3 separate regions of the Homo sapiens genome follow, and all the other regions are linked to region 3. Evidence: fine-mapped expression QTL. A gene starts in region 3. Each other region holds a variant in brackets. All regions are shown on one strand. Distances are between the middles of the regions.

The links. PIP is the estimated chance that this variant, and not a neighbour inherited with it, causes the effect.
Region 1: its variant is the best candidate, but not a certain one, in a credible set for the expression of ALG5 in whole blood (INTERVAL, PIP 0.80).
Region 2: its variant is the best candidate, but not a certain one, in a credible set for the expression of ALG5 in thyroid (GTEx, PIP 0.60).

What each region holds. Positions count from the first base shown.
Region 1 is chr13:36,950,512-36,955,739 of GRCh38, forward strand. It overlaps ALG5 (ALG5 dolichyl-phosphate beta-glucosyltransferase), which reads right to left. Exons shown (of 10, transcript NM_013338.5): 9 at 2,003-2,088. Among named protein-coding and RNA genes, the nearest start is that of SMAD9, 33 kb to the left of the region's middle. The variant T/C (reference allele first, on the strand shown) is at 3,019.
Region 2 is chr13:36,941,725-36,946,952 of GRCh38, forward strand. No RefSeq gene overlaps it. Among named protein-coding and RNA genes, the nearest start is that of SMAD9, 24 kb to the left of the region's middle. The variant C/T (reference allele first, on the strand shown) is at 2,161.
Region 3 is chr13:36,996,230-37,001,457 of GRCh38, forward strand. It overlaps ALG5 (ALG5 dolichyl-phosphate beta-glucosyltransferase), which reads right to left and starts at 3,111. Exons shown (of 10, transcript NM_013338.5): 1 at 3,006-3,111. The coding sequence starts at 3,071. It overlaps EXOSC8 (exosome component 8), which reads left to right and starts at 4,557. Exons shown (of 11, transcript NM_181503.3): 1 at 4,557-4,593. The coding sequence starts at 4,577. RefSeq lists a silencer at 3,027-3,326 and enhancers at 3,787-3,836, 4,297-4,386, 4,587-4,846, 5,067-5,126.

The sequences.
Region 1 (5,228 bases), 46 kb before region 3:
CTCTTTGTCTCGGGCTACACAAGAACACCAGCCTAATTAAATATCTGATCCACATATCACAGCAGATTCTTTTTTTGTTTTTTTTTTAAACAAGATCTTGCTCTGTCACCCAGGCTGTAGTGCAGTGACACGATTATGGCTCACTGTAACCTTGACCTCCCGGGCTCAAACGATCCAGTCCTCCTACCTCAGCCTCCCCAGTAGCTGGGAGTACAGGAGGCACGCACCACACCTGCCTAATTTTACAATTTTTTTATAGAGATGAGGTCTCACTGTGTTGCCCAGGCTGGTCTCAAACTCCTAGGCTCAAGTGATCCTCCCAACTTAGGCTCCCAAAGTGCTGGGATTACAGGCATGAGTGACTGCACCCAGCCACAGCAGATTCTTATAACCATTACTTATAGTATATACGTGCAGATAAAGTATCAGGAGGAAGGTTTAACATTTCATTATCATTTTAATTATACTTTATATTTAAAGAAGACCTTTTTCACTGCTCTGAATTTATATGACAGCTTTCTTCTGAAAACATTACCACCAAAGCACTGTAGAGACATTATCGTTTATCAGGGCCAAAAATTATCTTCATCCCACAAATGAGGAAGTTGAGGTACCTACAATTCATATTACAAGACAACTATCTCTGTAATGCAAATAAGCAAATGACTAAACATAAAATGGACTTTTACTTTTCCCCACCTCATCTTCCCATAGAGTCTAGGTTGGCCAAAGATCAACACAAATCAACAAAGTTGATCATGATACCCCTGAGTGATCCTTTGACCTGCTTCCCAATCCCCTTTGATTCTAGGCAGCTACTGTGGAGATGAGCTAAGATTTTGTAAACTCAGTTTGATTCAGCAAGATGTAAAGAGGTTTGAATTCATCCTAGACTATACAGTTTGTATAATCTCGAGATTGGTTCTTAACCTTTTTCTGTCCCTAAACATCTGAGGTTACAGAGCAATAATGGTTTACTGCAACAAGGACTCTCACCAGAAGAGCTGGACTTCGAAAAAGTCTCCAGTTGATTATGTTAACTGCTCCCACACTGTGAATTAATTTAGGTTCATTCTAAGGTAAGGAGAAAACTAGAATATGTTTAAAATTCTATACAGCCAGAGCTGTCTAAGCCTTTTAAAATAGGAATTATTAAGATTTATGATAGATTTCAAGTTATTATAGAGTTGGGATCTTTATACTTTTGGATATATGTACAGATATAGTTTTTAAATGGCTCTGGATTGACTGTGGACATTTGGAGTAAAAACACTTTTAGTTATTTATTTTTTCAGATGGAGTTTCACTCGTTGCCCAGGCGGGAGTGCAATGGTGCAATCTTGGCTCACCGCAACCTTTGCCTCTCGGGTTCAAGCAATTCTTCTGCCTCAGACTCCTGACTAGCTGGGATTACAGGTGCCTGACACCACGCCCGGCCATCTTTTTGTATTTTTTAGTAAAGACGGGGTTTCACCCTGTTGGCCAGACTGGTCTTGAACTCCTGACCTTAGGTGATCCACCCCCTCGGTCTCCGAAAGTGCTGGGATTACAGGCATGAGGCATGGTGCTCGGCCATAAAAAAAATTTTTATTTCTTATTTAGCTTTGCATAGTGGTTTGCAGGTACCTAATTAATATCCACCTAGTGATAAAAAAAATATAGGAAATGGTGATGCAAAAAATAAATTTATCTATCTCAAAAGACTATCAACCTTCTAATTTCAGATCACCATGACTTTGTCTATTGTAGGAAGTTTTATTGAAGTTTCTTCGACAAGGTAGTAGGCCTACTGAAGGCCCCATGAACAGACAAAAAATATAAAAGGCAGCAAGCCAGATGGAAGGTATTAGTAGGTACTATTCTCCTTGGAACTGGATCTTTGAGTCAAGACAGCTGAGAAGGGCTTGATGAGGGGAGCAAGGAGAACATTAAAGCCAGCTGACTTTACTAAACAACTGTATTATCTGACTCAAGACAATCATACAATAAACAATATACTCACCTTCAATTTCTGTCCAGTTGACAGCAATTTCTGCTATTGGAATTTTAAAGAACTGTGCTATGTACAGTAGTTCTACATCAAATGCCCTAAAATAGAAAATATATTGATATTTATTTTTAAAGACAAATAGAACACAACTACATCTCTACCTTGGCATGTTTTAAAGAAGCTTACATGGCAGATATAAAGCTTATACCATAAATCTGAAGATCAGATTCACAGAAATCAAATAATTCAAAGCTGAGTAGTTCAGAAGTTTCAAGTCAAATAATAATTTAGAATATCATTGCATAATATTGTATCTCTATTACAACTCAGAAACTCACAGAGGTAAAACTAGCCTCATGGGTTCCAAGAAAAAATTTAATCCTGGAAAATTTCAAGATTGATGGTTTTCAATCCTAACCTTAACTGGACTAGCTCAAGGTAAAGAACTGACATTTTCAACTGATTCAGACAGCTGATAAAACAAAACTCTGAGATGCTCTAGTTGAGACTGTTTTACATTACTTTAGAGTTGGTTGCCTATTTTCTTCTACCATCAGAGGATCCAGATTACTTTTCTAATAGTGTCCCCAGGGCCTTCCTTGTCTTTTCTGTTCCCCTTCCCTGTGGTGTCCTGCACAATATAATACTGGCAACTATTGAAAGTAAAAAGCTACTTTGGACTAGTCTGAAATACTCTTTGGGTATAATTAATACATACATAGGAATCTGATATATTGTCTTACTTGTCCTAATATATACTGTTAAAACCATTTCCAGTCTAAATCTCCAGTGTATCCTTCCTTCCACTTACGAAAGGTCTTTCTTAAAGCCTCTTTTCAGTCAGTGCCTTGGCTTAGGTCAAACCTGCTTTCCTTAAAGGTTCTGAATCCTGACTCATAAGTTTTCCTGGATTCTGCTTACAAAATTTCTCTGAACTAGTTGCTTCTCTCACTGGTATTAAAGCTCAGGAAGAAAAGCACTACTACCTGTTAAATCTTCTTCATCGTCATTGAAACTGTCTAAAGTCC[T/C]TGACTGTTTTGCCTTCATCCATGAGTCAGTCCCCACTTTCTAGGCTGCACAGAGCACAGTTCAAACTTCTAGGGCCTGGTGTAAAACATTATTAATACAGACAAGAAAATGCCTAAAGTCCACTTATATTTGATTTCTCCAATCCCAGACAACTTGAATTTGGGAGATTTTTTGGTTTTTTGCCACAATACCATAATCATCCATTAGGTAAATAGTTTAAATTCCAAGTATTATGATAAAACCACTTACAAAAGTGGGTTGTATTTTAAAACTTTCGTCCCCTAGAATTGTGATACTTATGAAAAAAGAAATAATTTCAATATTAAGCCTGGTGCTTTACCCTTAACTTTCCTTTTAACACAAAAACAAAATATTAGCTAGTGGGCTGAGTTAGTTCTAATGATACTTGATAACCTGAAAAAGATTATTATATATTATTTCTAAGGATATCAGTATATAGCTAGTGACTTATCAAATACACAAAACAATTGAGTAAAAAAGAGTGGGGTGGTTAACTGAAATCACCTTATATTAAAAAAAAAATCCTAGACCAAAAGGGTTTTTCGGTTTGTTTTAAACAGGGTCTTACTCTGTCATCCAGGCTGGAATGCAGTGGCGCAATCAGGGCTCACTGCAGCCTCAACCTCCCTGGACTCAGGTGATCCTCCCACCTTTGCCTCCTGAACATCTGGGAGCATAGGCCCAGATATTCCTTACTAGTCCTATAATTTTATCTTCTTCTTTTCTAGTTTTGTTCTTTTGAGATTTCCTCAATTTTATTATCTAGCCCTCTTTTTGAATTTTCATCTCTGTGCCACCATGCCTGGTTAATTTTTGTATTTTTTGTAGAGAAGAGGTTTCATTATGTATCCCAGGTCTTGAACTCCTGGGCTTAAATGATCCGCCTGGCTTGACCTCCCAAAGTCCTGAGATTACAGGCTTGAGCCACTGTGTCTGACCCAAAATTAAATTATGTCTTTCTCCTCTTAAACATTTTAGAAGACATTTATTACACATACAAAAAAATGCAGCTCATATCATCATATTATAAGTGCCCAGTCTGTTACCTAAGCAAACATTTTAACTAAAATACCAAGTACTTCTATACAGAGCCTTATGTTATTAGGGGGAAACAGTATAAGGGTTATTCTCCAACTAAGATGCCTTCATTTGTTTATGCAAATATGGGTTGGGCTGAGCCACTGTGTTTTCTTTTCTTACTCAGTTCCTGGTACAGCTGTTATCTCACTAACAGATTCCTAAAGGACAAAAAATATGCTGAGACCCTGTTAAACCCACCAGATGGACATGAACCCCACTGCTGCCTCCTGCAGCCCTATCAAAATTAACACAACAATATGGAATAAACATATAAGAACAAAGATGGGAGGAAATGATAATAAAAATAAAAAAAACCTTGGAAGTTGTAGGGAACATGGACAGGACAGTGGGAGAAGGGTGCCACAGAGCACCCCAGAGGCTCAGGCATTGAAGGCCTCAACTGATGTCTTCAGGTGAAGACACAGGTGGGGCTGCAAGTAGGACTCACTGAACATCTAAGATTTTCCTTCCCTTCATGCCTTTTCTCTGTTGGTTCTGTGAATGCTAACAGCCAGGCTCACAGCTCCTAGGCAGGAGATTGAAGGACTCTACTTTCATGAAAATGACCTGTCCAAAAGACAATGCCAGTTGGGACTTTCTCACACGTAGCTCTGCTGGTTTAACCTGTAGCGAAATTTACCAATCAGAGGCTCTGCGCATGGACACAGCTTCTACTGAGTGTTTTAGTGCCATACTATAGACATGTGAAGAATGAGTGTTAAAAAGAAACACAAAATCAGAGGCAACAGAAACAATGCAGGTAAAGAAAATGACAAAGTTTTAAATAAGATATTCAGAGGTAGTGGAAGACACTGTAGTCATGCAACAAGAATAGGTTTTTTAAAAAGTTAATACTGAAAAACAAAAAAAAAGAGTTCTAGGAAATTACAATTTTGATAGCAGAGATAAAAATTCAAAAAGAAGATTGGATAATAAAATTGAGGAAATCTCAAAAGATCAAAACTAGAAAAGAAGAGAGAAGATAAAATTACAGGACTAGTAAGGAGGTTCCACATCTGTTTGTAAGAGAGCAGAGAAAATGAACAGAGATTGTGAAAAAAAAAAAAAAAAAAAAAAAAAAGATTAAGAAACATTTCTCAGAACTAAA
Region 2 (5,228 bases), 55 kb before region 3:
CTGAGGCAGGAGAACCGCTTGAACCCAGGAGATTGCAGTGAGCTGAGATCACACCACTGCACTCTAGCAGGGGAGACAGAGCAAGGCTCCGTCTCAAAAAAAAAAAAAAAGGCAAAAAACGAAAAAGAATGACAAAGATCAAAAGGAACTGACAGTATATAAACTATCTTCCCAGATGGAGGTGATTTTACTTACATTGTAGTTGTGCATTGTGCATGCGGAGTCCCATAGAGATGCAACAATTTAGGGGAAATTTTCCTAATTTTAGACTGCAAAGATTCATCCTTCCTCAGAACATATCTGGCTTCTTGATCTCATATTATTTGCATTGCAATTTAAATGTTTAACATATTCCTTTCTTTCTAAGTAGATCCCTCGAGAATAGACATTTTTTTAAAGTAGAACTGCTAGGCATTCAATCATTGAGTGGATGATGGAAGGACTTACACTTCATAGTGTATATAGTGCGATGTTAAGGACTTTTATTTTCCTTACAATTTTATTTCAAAAGATTTAAATAAATTCACACCACTGGAGAGTTGGGACATGTTTTGCAATTACTATAGCTTTGGGGCCCTAGGTTTTACTATTTCTGCGATGATAGAAAAAGCTGCAGTGACATTCATCTACCCTGCACAGAGGTACATGTTGTTACTGTAATATTAATGGGTCAGAGATATAGACCTTATGACTTTGTTTTCCCCAGCAGTATTTTTGGTCTTTTTTTTTTTTTTTTTTTTTTTGAGATGGAGTTTCGCTCTTTCACCCAGGTTGGAGTGAAGTGGCATGATCTTGGCTCACTGCAACCTTCATCCCCCGGGTTCAAGTGATTTTCCTGCGTCAGCATCCCGAGTAGCTGAGATTACAGGTGCCCACCACCAGGCCCGGCTAATTTTTGTATTTTTAGTAGAGACAGGGTTTTGCCATGTTGACCAGGCTGGTCTCAAACTCTTGACCTCAAGTGATTTACCCGCCTCTGCCTCCCAAAATGCTGGGATTATAGGCGTGAGCCACCGCGCCTGGCCCCAGCAGTATTTTTGAGGTGCATTGTGATACTGCTCAGGTAAGGACCTCTTTTGTTCCCCTTTGTCCTTTCTCAGTACTATCAGAATTTAGACAGGATCAAATCTAGGTAAAGTATTATGTTTTGTGACCATCAAAATACTAACTGGAGTTTTACTTCAAAATCAGCGAATCAAAAAGATATCACTTATTAGAGTCTATTATTGGATTAACAAAATAAATTTATCAATTTGTGGATTTGGCACTTTTGAGACTGCACAAAAACAAACAAAAAACTGCACAAAAACACAATCAAAGCATTTTTGAGACTGCACAAAAACAAAAACAAAGCAGTCCTCTAGACTTCTTCTTCAGGGGATTTAATTGTCAATAAAATGGATAATCTCGTTCATAGAATTATTTTTTCGATGAGTGAATTGAAATGGTAGCATTATCTAACCATTTCCTTTATTGAACAATCACAATTTAGGATGCTGTAGAGACAAACAAATAAAATAAAGGCAAAGTTTCTGCTCTTAAGGAAATTATAACTGATATGGTTTAGTTTTGTGTCCCCACCCAAATCTCATGTCAAATTGTAATCCCTAGTGTTGGAGGAGGGACCTGGTGGCAGATGATTGGATCTTAGTGGTAGATTTTCCCCTTGCTGTTCTCATGATAGTGAGTGAATTCTCAAGAGACATGGATGTTTAAAAGTGTATGGCGCCTCTCCGTTTGCTCTTTTCCTCCTTCTCCAGACATGATTGTAAGTTTCCTGAGGCCCTTCACCTTCTGCCATGATTGTAAGTTTCCTGAGGCCCTTCACCTTCTGCCATGATTGTAAGTTTCCTGAGGCCTCCTCAGTTATGCTTCCTGTACACCTGTGGAACTATGAGTCAATTAAACCTCTTTTTTTTTTTTTAAATAAATTACTCAGTCTCAGGTAGTTCTTTATAGCAATCTGAGAAAGGACTAATAAAATAACTGAATAAAGAAGGTGGAACATAGAACTGGAGAATCAACTACGAGTAGAAGTACAGTGCACCCCTGAACGATGCAGGGGTTTGGAGTGCTAACCCCTGTGTAGTTGATAATCCATTAACTTTGACTCCCTCAAAACTTAACTACTAATAGCCTGCTATTGACTGGAAACTTTAC[C/T]GATAACATAGTGTATTAACACATATTTCCTAAATTATATGTATTATATATTGCGTTCTTACAATAAAGTATGCTAGAGAAAAGAAAATGTTATTAAGAAAACCATAAGTAAGAGAAAATATATTTAACATTCATTAAGTGGAAGTGAGTCGTCATAAAGGCCTTCATTCTTGTCTTCACATTGAGTTGGCTGAGGAGTAAGAGGAGGGGTTGGTCTTGCTGTCTCCCAGGTGACAGAGGCAGAAGAGGTGGAGGAGGTGGAAGGGGAGGCAGGAGAGGCAGGCACCCTTGGTGTGACTTCATGGAAATATTAATATATCATAATTCTGGTCTGATTTTTTTTCATTTCTCTAAAAATGTTTCTCTACAGTACCAATCCTTCTTCTACCATTTGCTTTAGTTTCAGTGCCCATATTGTGGAAGGGTCCAAGTTGTAAAAGAAGTCACAAGCAGACTTCAATAATTGGAGTCCTGCTTCTTGTATGTCTTCTTCTGCATCATCTGGCACTGGTTCAGAAGCACTCATCTTCATCAAGTCATCTTCTGCTAACTCCACTGGTGTTGTCTCTATTACCTGTTGAATTTCTCCAACATCCATATCTCAAAACTGTTCACCTGCCATCTTTTTTTTTTTGCCCTATCCACAATCTCTTTCATGATTTCTTTGATTGGCTCTGTCATAAATCCTGTGAAGTCATGCACAACATCTGGACACAGTTTTCTGCAGGAATTATTGTTTCATACTTGGTGACTTTCACAGCTTTTATTTTTCTATAACGATGGCTTGCATCTTCAATGGTATAATTCTTTCAGACTTTTTTTTTTTTTTTTTGAGAGACAGGGTCTTGCTCTGTTCCCCAGGCTGGAGTGCAGTGGTGTGATGACAGCTCACCACAGCCCCAAACTCCTGGGCTCAGGCAGTCCTCCATCCTCAGCCTCCCGAGTAGTGAGGACTACTGGCTGCACCAACCACCATGCCCAGCTAATTTTTTAATTTTTTTGTAGAGATGGGATCTTGTTATGTTGCCCAGGCTGGTATTGAACTCCTGACCTCAAGTGATCCTCCCACCTCGGCCTCCCAAAGTGCTGGGATTACAGACGTGAGCCACCAGACCCCAACCCCTTCCAGCCTTTCATGTCCTGTTGGGCTTTTGTTCTAGCATTGACAATCCTTTCTATAGAGAACTGTGTGTAATGAGCCTTCAAGGTCCTATGACTCCCTGATGTAAAGGCTGAATTAGAGACATTGTGTTTGGGGGCAAGTAGACAACTGCTAAGCCTTCCGTGTTGAACTCATGACGTTCTGGGTGATCAGGGGCATTGTCCAATGTCAAAAGAACCTTAAAAGGCAATTTCTCACTGGCAGGGTACTTTTTGACTTCAGGGACAGAACATCAATGCAGGCAATCCAGAGAAAGGGGTATCATTGTCCAGGCCTCCTTGTACAACCAGAAGACTGGGAGCTGATGTTTATCATTTCCTTTCAGGATTTAGCAGCTTTACAGATAAGGGCAGTCCTGATCATAAACCCGATTGCATTTGTACAAAACAGCAGTTAGCCTGTTTCTTCCTGCCTTAAATCCTGGTGCTTGCTTCTCTTCCTAATAAATGTCCTTTGTGGCATTCCACCCCCCCACCCCCCAGATTAGGGCACTTTCGTCTGCATTAAAAACCTGTTTAGGCAGATATCCTTTCTCCTCAATGATTTTCTTAATGGTGTTTGGGAACTCGTGTGTTACCTCCTGGATCAGCAGAAGCTGCTTCTCCCTTATCTTGACTTTTTTTTTAAAAGCCAAACCTCTAAAATGAACCATTCATTTCTGGCATTAAATTCCCCAGCTTTAGATCCTTCACCTTCCTTTAACTTGTCATATGATGACTTTGCCTTTTTGTGAATCATATTAGAGTCTATAGGTATGTCTTTCTTATAGCAATCCTGTACCCACTTAAAAGCTGCATTTTCAATATGAGAGAAAAGGTATTTTGCAAAAATTGCAAGATTTTTGTACCTGCAGATGTAGTAGTGGCAATGGATTCACAAATTTTCTTTTTTTTTTCCCCAATAGTCCTTACACTATTTATTTATTTTTTTGAGACAGTCTCGCTCTGTCACCTAGGTTGGAGTGCAGTGGTGCAATCTCGGTTTGCTGCAACCTCCCTCTTCCGGGTTCAAGTGAGTCTTGTGCCTCAGTCTCCCAAGTAGCTGGGATTACAGGCACCCGCCACCACGCCTGGCGAATTCTTGTATTTTTAGTAGAGATGGGGTTTCACAATGATGGCCAAGCTGGTCTTGAACTACCTCAGGTGATCCGCCTGCCTCGGCCTCCCAAAGTGCTGGGATTATAGGCATGAGCTACCATGCCTGGCTTGGATTCATTTATCTTGAAATGGTGAGCAACCTCAGCTGCAGCCCTCATCTATGGTACATATCAAGCAATTCAACTTTTTCTTGTAATGTCATGACTTTTCTCTGCTTCTTGGGAGTATTTCCAGCATTACTAATGGTACTTCATATCGGTCCCATGGTGTTATTCAAGGTTTACAGTATTGCACTAAACATGAAAAACACATGAGAACTCCAAGAGCTCAATTTCTACTGTTATATGCAATTTACTGGAGAGATGAACTGCTCATATGGAGATGGTTAGTGTCACACAGCATATAAGTGGATATTTACAACACCTGAGCTCATGCAATAGCAACAGGAGGTGGCTACGAAATTATTAATTTTATGCAGTTATGATTTAATACTGCATTTTTTTTTTTTGAGACGGAGTCTCACTCATGTCACCCAGGCTGGAGTGCAGTGGCGTGATCTTGGCTCACTGCAACCTCCACCTCCCCAAGTGATTTTCCTGCCTCAGCCTCCCAAGTAGCTGGGATTACAGGCACCTGCCACCATGCCCAGCTAATTTTTGTATTTTTAGTAGAGATGGGGTTTCACCATGTTGGCCAGGCTGGTTTCGAACTCCTGACCTCAGGTGATCCACCCACCTTGGCCTCTCAAAGTGATGGGATTACAGGTGTGAGCCACCGCGCACAGCCTAATACTGCATCTTTGTTTAAAT
Region 3 (5,228 bases):
TGGGAGCTAAGCTTTGGAAATAACCATTGTTTTTACATTGTTTCTATTGGTACACTTTCTGCTTTCAAAACAGTCTTTAAATTTTTGGAATGCTATTCATTTGTAATTTAATGATCAATTTGAAGACATTATCAAATTGTCATTGTCATCAGCTCCTGAGGTTTGATCTTTGAGGTCTGATCTTTACTGCCATCATCAACTACTATCACTTCAGAGATTATAAGATTATAATCAAAGATTATCAAAGATTATAAGGGCTGTGCTGAAAGGACAAAGTAGTCAACCTGAATGGGCTCTCAGTGGCCTATGATGCAAGAATCTGATCGTCCTCCCACTTCCCCCCTGCCAAAAAAAATTACTGCAATGGATCAAACCATGAAAAATACTGTAAATCATAAATTTGCAATGATACTAAAGACAAAAACTGGGTAAGATGCAGGAAGGATCTCATTTCAAAAATTTGCCTTTTGCGTTTTATATGTATGAAAGGTATTTTAGGGTAAATGAATAGCTGAGGATGAGATTTCTTTCATTACAAAACTCTAGGTAATAAATGAAGGATACAATGAGAATATTTCACTTTGCAACCCGCAATGAAATAAAGCATTTAGGTAATGATCCTCAATGACTACTAAAACCATTAGGCTGATGACAAACTTTATAAACTGGTGGGTCTGGCTGGCAACATTTGAAACCACAGATCCATCTTAACACCAGAGACAAATGGCCATTACATGACTCCTGATGAGACACAAGAGAAAGGAAGAAGCATCACTCACAATTTTTTCTTGATTAAAAAACACATCGAGTATGTATGTGATCAGGTCTCTCCATCCTAACTACCAGTTTATAGAAAATTTGAGATAGAAGATGTTAAAAGGCATTAAGGGGATGCAATCAAAGAAATCCAAATTGTGAGAAGTTCTACAGGACAAATGATCATATTAAAGACAAGGAAAAAGGCCGGGCGCGGTGGCTCATGTCTGTAATCCCAGAAGTTTGGGAGGCCGAGGAGGGTGGATCACCTGAGTTCAGGAGTTCGAGACCAGCCTGGCCAACATGGCGAAACCCCATCTCTATTAAAAGTACAAAAATTAACCGGGAGTGGTGGTAGGCGCCTGTAATCCCAGCTACTCAGGAGGCTGAGGCAGGAGAATTGCTTGAGGGCAGAGGTTGCAGTGAGCCAAGATCACACCACTGCACTCCAGCCTGGGTGACAAGAGCCAGACTCCGTCTCAAAAAAAAAAAAAAAAAAAAAAGACAAGGAAAAGAAAAAAAGGGGGAGGAGAAACTGTCAACTGATTAAGAGACTCAAGACATCAACAGAGTACAATGTGTGGCACTTGTTTGGATCCTGATTGGAACAAACAGACATATATACTGAGACATATATGAGACAAGTGAGGGCAAGTGAACTGAGGGGGCATTTGAAATCACAGAATAAATTTAAATCTGTGACCACTTTATTGTGGTATTTTAAAAAGAAGGACCTTATCTGTTAGAAATAAATGCTGAGGATTTAAAGATAAAATGTCTTCGAGTTGTTTTAAAATAATTCAGAAAGGAGGTGAGACTGTGAGTAATGGAGAGTGGATACATATGAAGACAGGATGAGGTTTTGAAAAATTATTTTTTTAATGATTTCTTGCTCTGGCATTTAAAAAACCTAAGTTTCACTAGTTGTGCAACATTTGAGTACACGAGCTCATTTCTCCAACATGTTTCCTCACCAGTAAAATAATGCTAATGATAACATATATGTCACAGTGTTAAAGATTTAATAACTCCTATTAAACCAAGTGCAACACAACATATAGTAAGTACTACAATCAATAAATGGTAGCTCTTATCACTTCAAGCTAGTGGGAACAAATACCGTCAGTACAATCCCATAAAATCTGTGCAAAAGACCCAAAGTAAGGCAGCTTCAATCTAAGAATGTGTGAATCCACTCCCCGCCCGCACCCCGCCAAAAATCAATCAATCAATCAATCAATCCTGGTTTGCTCAAAAACTTGAAAAAACAAAAAAGCCCTAAACCCTGAAATCTCTACTAGTTAGGGCAAGAGAGGACTCCTCTCTCACCCAGATACTATCAACAAAGAAGTAAGGATGCATTACATTTTATCTAAACTGTAAATTTATACAACCTCTGGAAAGATGGCAGAGTGGCCTTCCTGGCAGTGCTGTCTAGGTGGCTAATCTGAATGTCAAGGAAGCTGAAATCCTCTCCACTTACTAACTAGAGGGCAGGCTCATTCCAAGGTGTGCGGGAGAGAGTTCGCCAATTTTCTACCACTTAACAATCAGCAAGTGTTTACAATGTTTTTGTGTTTCGAGAGCAAGGGCAAAGACAATCGAGTTTGCATTCTATCGTCCTGCCTTGTTTAGGGGCAGTATATTTAGGGTGCTTAATTCTGGGACACAATGCGACCCCGGACAAGGCGCCTGAGGCCTGTCTCTCTCGCTCACCCTGCGTCCCTAGTGGGTCTCATCGATCCACGCATTTATTCCCATTTGTAACAGATGGCTGCCGTCAAGGCTCCGTCACCCCTATTTGCTTAACCACATCAGCCAAGGGAGCAGGCTAGGGAGCACACCCCTTCTGGGGGCTCGAGACCTCCCTGGGTGGAGCAGAACTGCAGCGGCTGCAGGTCCCGGAGAGTCTGGGAGAGGTCGAGGTTGACAGAGGAGGTGGGTAGGGGGCGCGGGCGCCAGGGGCGATGGAAGCGGCGATGATGCCAGGCCGGGTGGGTGCGCTCCAGTGTGAAAAAACTTACAAGTCTCTGAGCACACAAAGAGATAAGATTCCAAGGGAAAATTAAAGAACCGAAGAAAAGGAGAGTGAAACTCCAGGAAACTCCGAGGTCAGGAATTTGGGGGAATCTAGGGGAAAAGGGACTTCTCCGAGAACTGGTAGCGCGGAGGAGGGGACGCCTGAGGAGCCGCAGTCTCCAGGAGAGCGGTAAGCCCCGGCCTGCGCGGGTTCCCATCCCTGTTCTCACCAGTACGAGGGCTGCGGCCGCCAGCGCCGCGCCGAGCACCGCCAGCTGCAACAGAAGCGGAGCCATTCTCCATGCCGTGGCAGCCCGCCCAATCCCGCACCTCCACACAGGCGGAAGCGCGCCCGCGCGACCCGGCCCCGCCGCCAGAGAGGTCGCGCCCGCTGGCCGCAGCGCCCCCGCGTGGCGAGGCGGAGAAAACGCCGCTCTCGTGCCCTCGGCGCCCAGTCGGTGGAGAGGAGCGCTAGGTTCCACAGCGGGGCGCCAGGTTTATCAAGTATGCAAGACGTCTACTTAATTTGAATTTCAGATTAAAAAACTAATCATGTTTTTAACAGCCTTATTAAGATAGCCACATACCATACGACTCATCCAGTTACAGGTTTCTGGTTTATTACATTAGTTTTTATAAACTGTGGTAAAATAAAAAGTTGCCATTTTAATCATTTTAAGTTTACAATAGTGAGTGGCATTAATTACATACATACTGTGCAACCATCACCACTATCTATCTGTAAAGCCTTCCCAGCTCCCTCCAGGTTCTGGCAACAACTAATTGCATGCTCTATTTGGGGCATACTCATGCTTTAAAAAAAAAAAAACCCACAAAAAAACAAAAACAAAAAACAAAAAAACCACGCTGTGTTTATCAGACATTCAAATTTAACGTGGTATCCTGTATTTTATCTGGTAACCCCACCTAGGAGGGAGATGGCAGCCTTGAGCACGACACAGTCTACAACACAAGGTGATGCTTAGGAGCCCTCAGCTCCGGGACCTGCAGAGCAGAACGTGGTGCGGACAATGAGCGCACAGAAAGTTCAGGTTTCTCGGCCGAGCGCCGTGGCTCACGCCTGTAATCCCAGCACTTTGGGAGGACGAGGCGGGCGGATCACAAGGTCAGGAGATCGAGACCATCCTGGCTAACACGGTGAAACCCCGTCTGTACTAAAAATACAAAAAATTAGCGGGGCGCGGTGGCGGGCGTCTGTAGTTCCAGCTACTCGGGAGGCTGAGGCAGGAGAATGGCGTGAACCCGGGAGGCGGAGCTTGCAGTGAGCCGAGATCGCGCCACTGCACTCCAGCCTGGACGACAGAGCGAGACTCTGTCTCAAAAAAAAAAAAAAAAAAAGTTCAGGTTTCTCATGTGTTGGAGCACGGAGCCCTTGACCAGTGAAGAGGCAAGGCCAGGGCTGAGCCTAAGTCACAGGCAGAAAAAAGACGCAGAAACATTGGAATAACGCTCCACACGCACTGCTTGATTCTGCGCTAGAAACCCTGTTATCTCCGAACTGTTGGTGTTATTCTGAGTCACAGCACCAGCTCTTTTATAAAGAGGGAGACCCGCTCCTTCTTTAACAGCAGATTCGTCAAAATACGTCCAAGGCAAGGAAACCTAGAAAGGCGTCTGGGCAGGGGAAAGTCGATGCGAGGGCGGGCCAGGGACCTTTCGTCGCGTCCCCACCTTGGCATTTCCCGTGGCGTGAGCGGCCCCGGCATCCGTGTCGAAAGTGCGGCGGCGGAACAGGCGCGCAGGAGAGGAGCGGCGCAGGCGCAGACGCGCGGGCGGGAAGATGGCGGCTGGGTTCAAGTGAGTGTTGGCGGGTGGCGGGTAGAGTTCTGTACCCTGGCGGACGGCAGCTTCCTTTAACTCTTAGCTGGGATTCTCTCACCTGGAGGCCGACCCCGTTGGGGTGCCATTTCCTTCCTCGTCGAGGCAGACGATGGGCGGGAGGACCTGGAGGTTGTCACAGTGAAAAGAAAGGGCTTCTTCCTCAGTGAGACGGGAGATGAAAGGACTCTGTAGAGTTCCATACCCGCTGCGAGCGCTCGTGAGCGTGGTGTGTAGTGAACGTGCAGTCCCAGGAGACATAGTTGTAATCTTTTAAAGATTGTGGCCGGGCGCGGCGGTTCACGCCTGTAATCCCAGCACTTTGGAGGACGAGGCGGGCGGATCACCTGACGTCAGGAGTTCGAGACCAGCCTGGTGTACATGGTGAAACACTGTCTCTAATAAAAATATAAAAATTAGCCGGGCGTGGTGGCGGGCGCCTGTAGTCCCAGCTACTCAGGAGGCTGAGGCAGGAGAATCGCTTGAACCCGGGAGGCAGAGGTTGTAGTGAGCCGAGATCGCGCCACTGCACTCCAGCCTGGGCGACAGAGTGAGACTCTGTCAGAATCAATCAATCAAGATTGTTGCATCAGAACCACATACCGCCTGCTTCT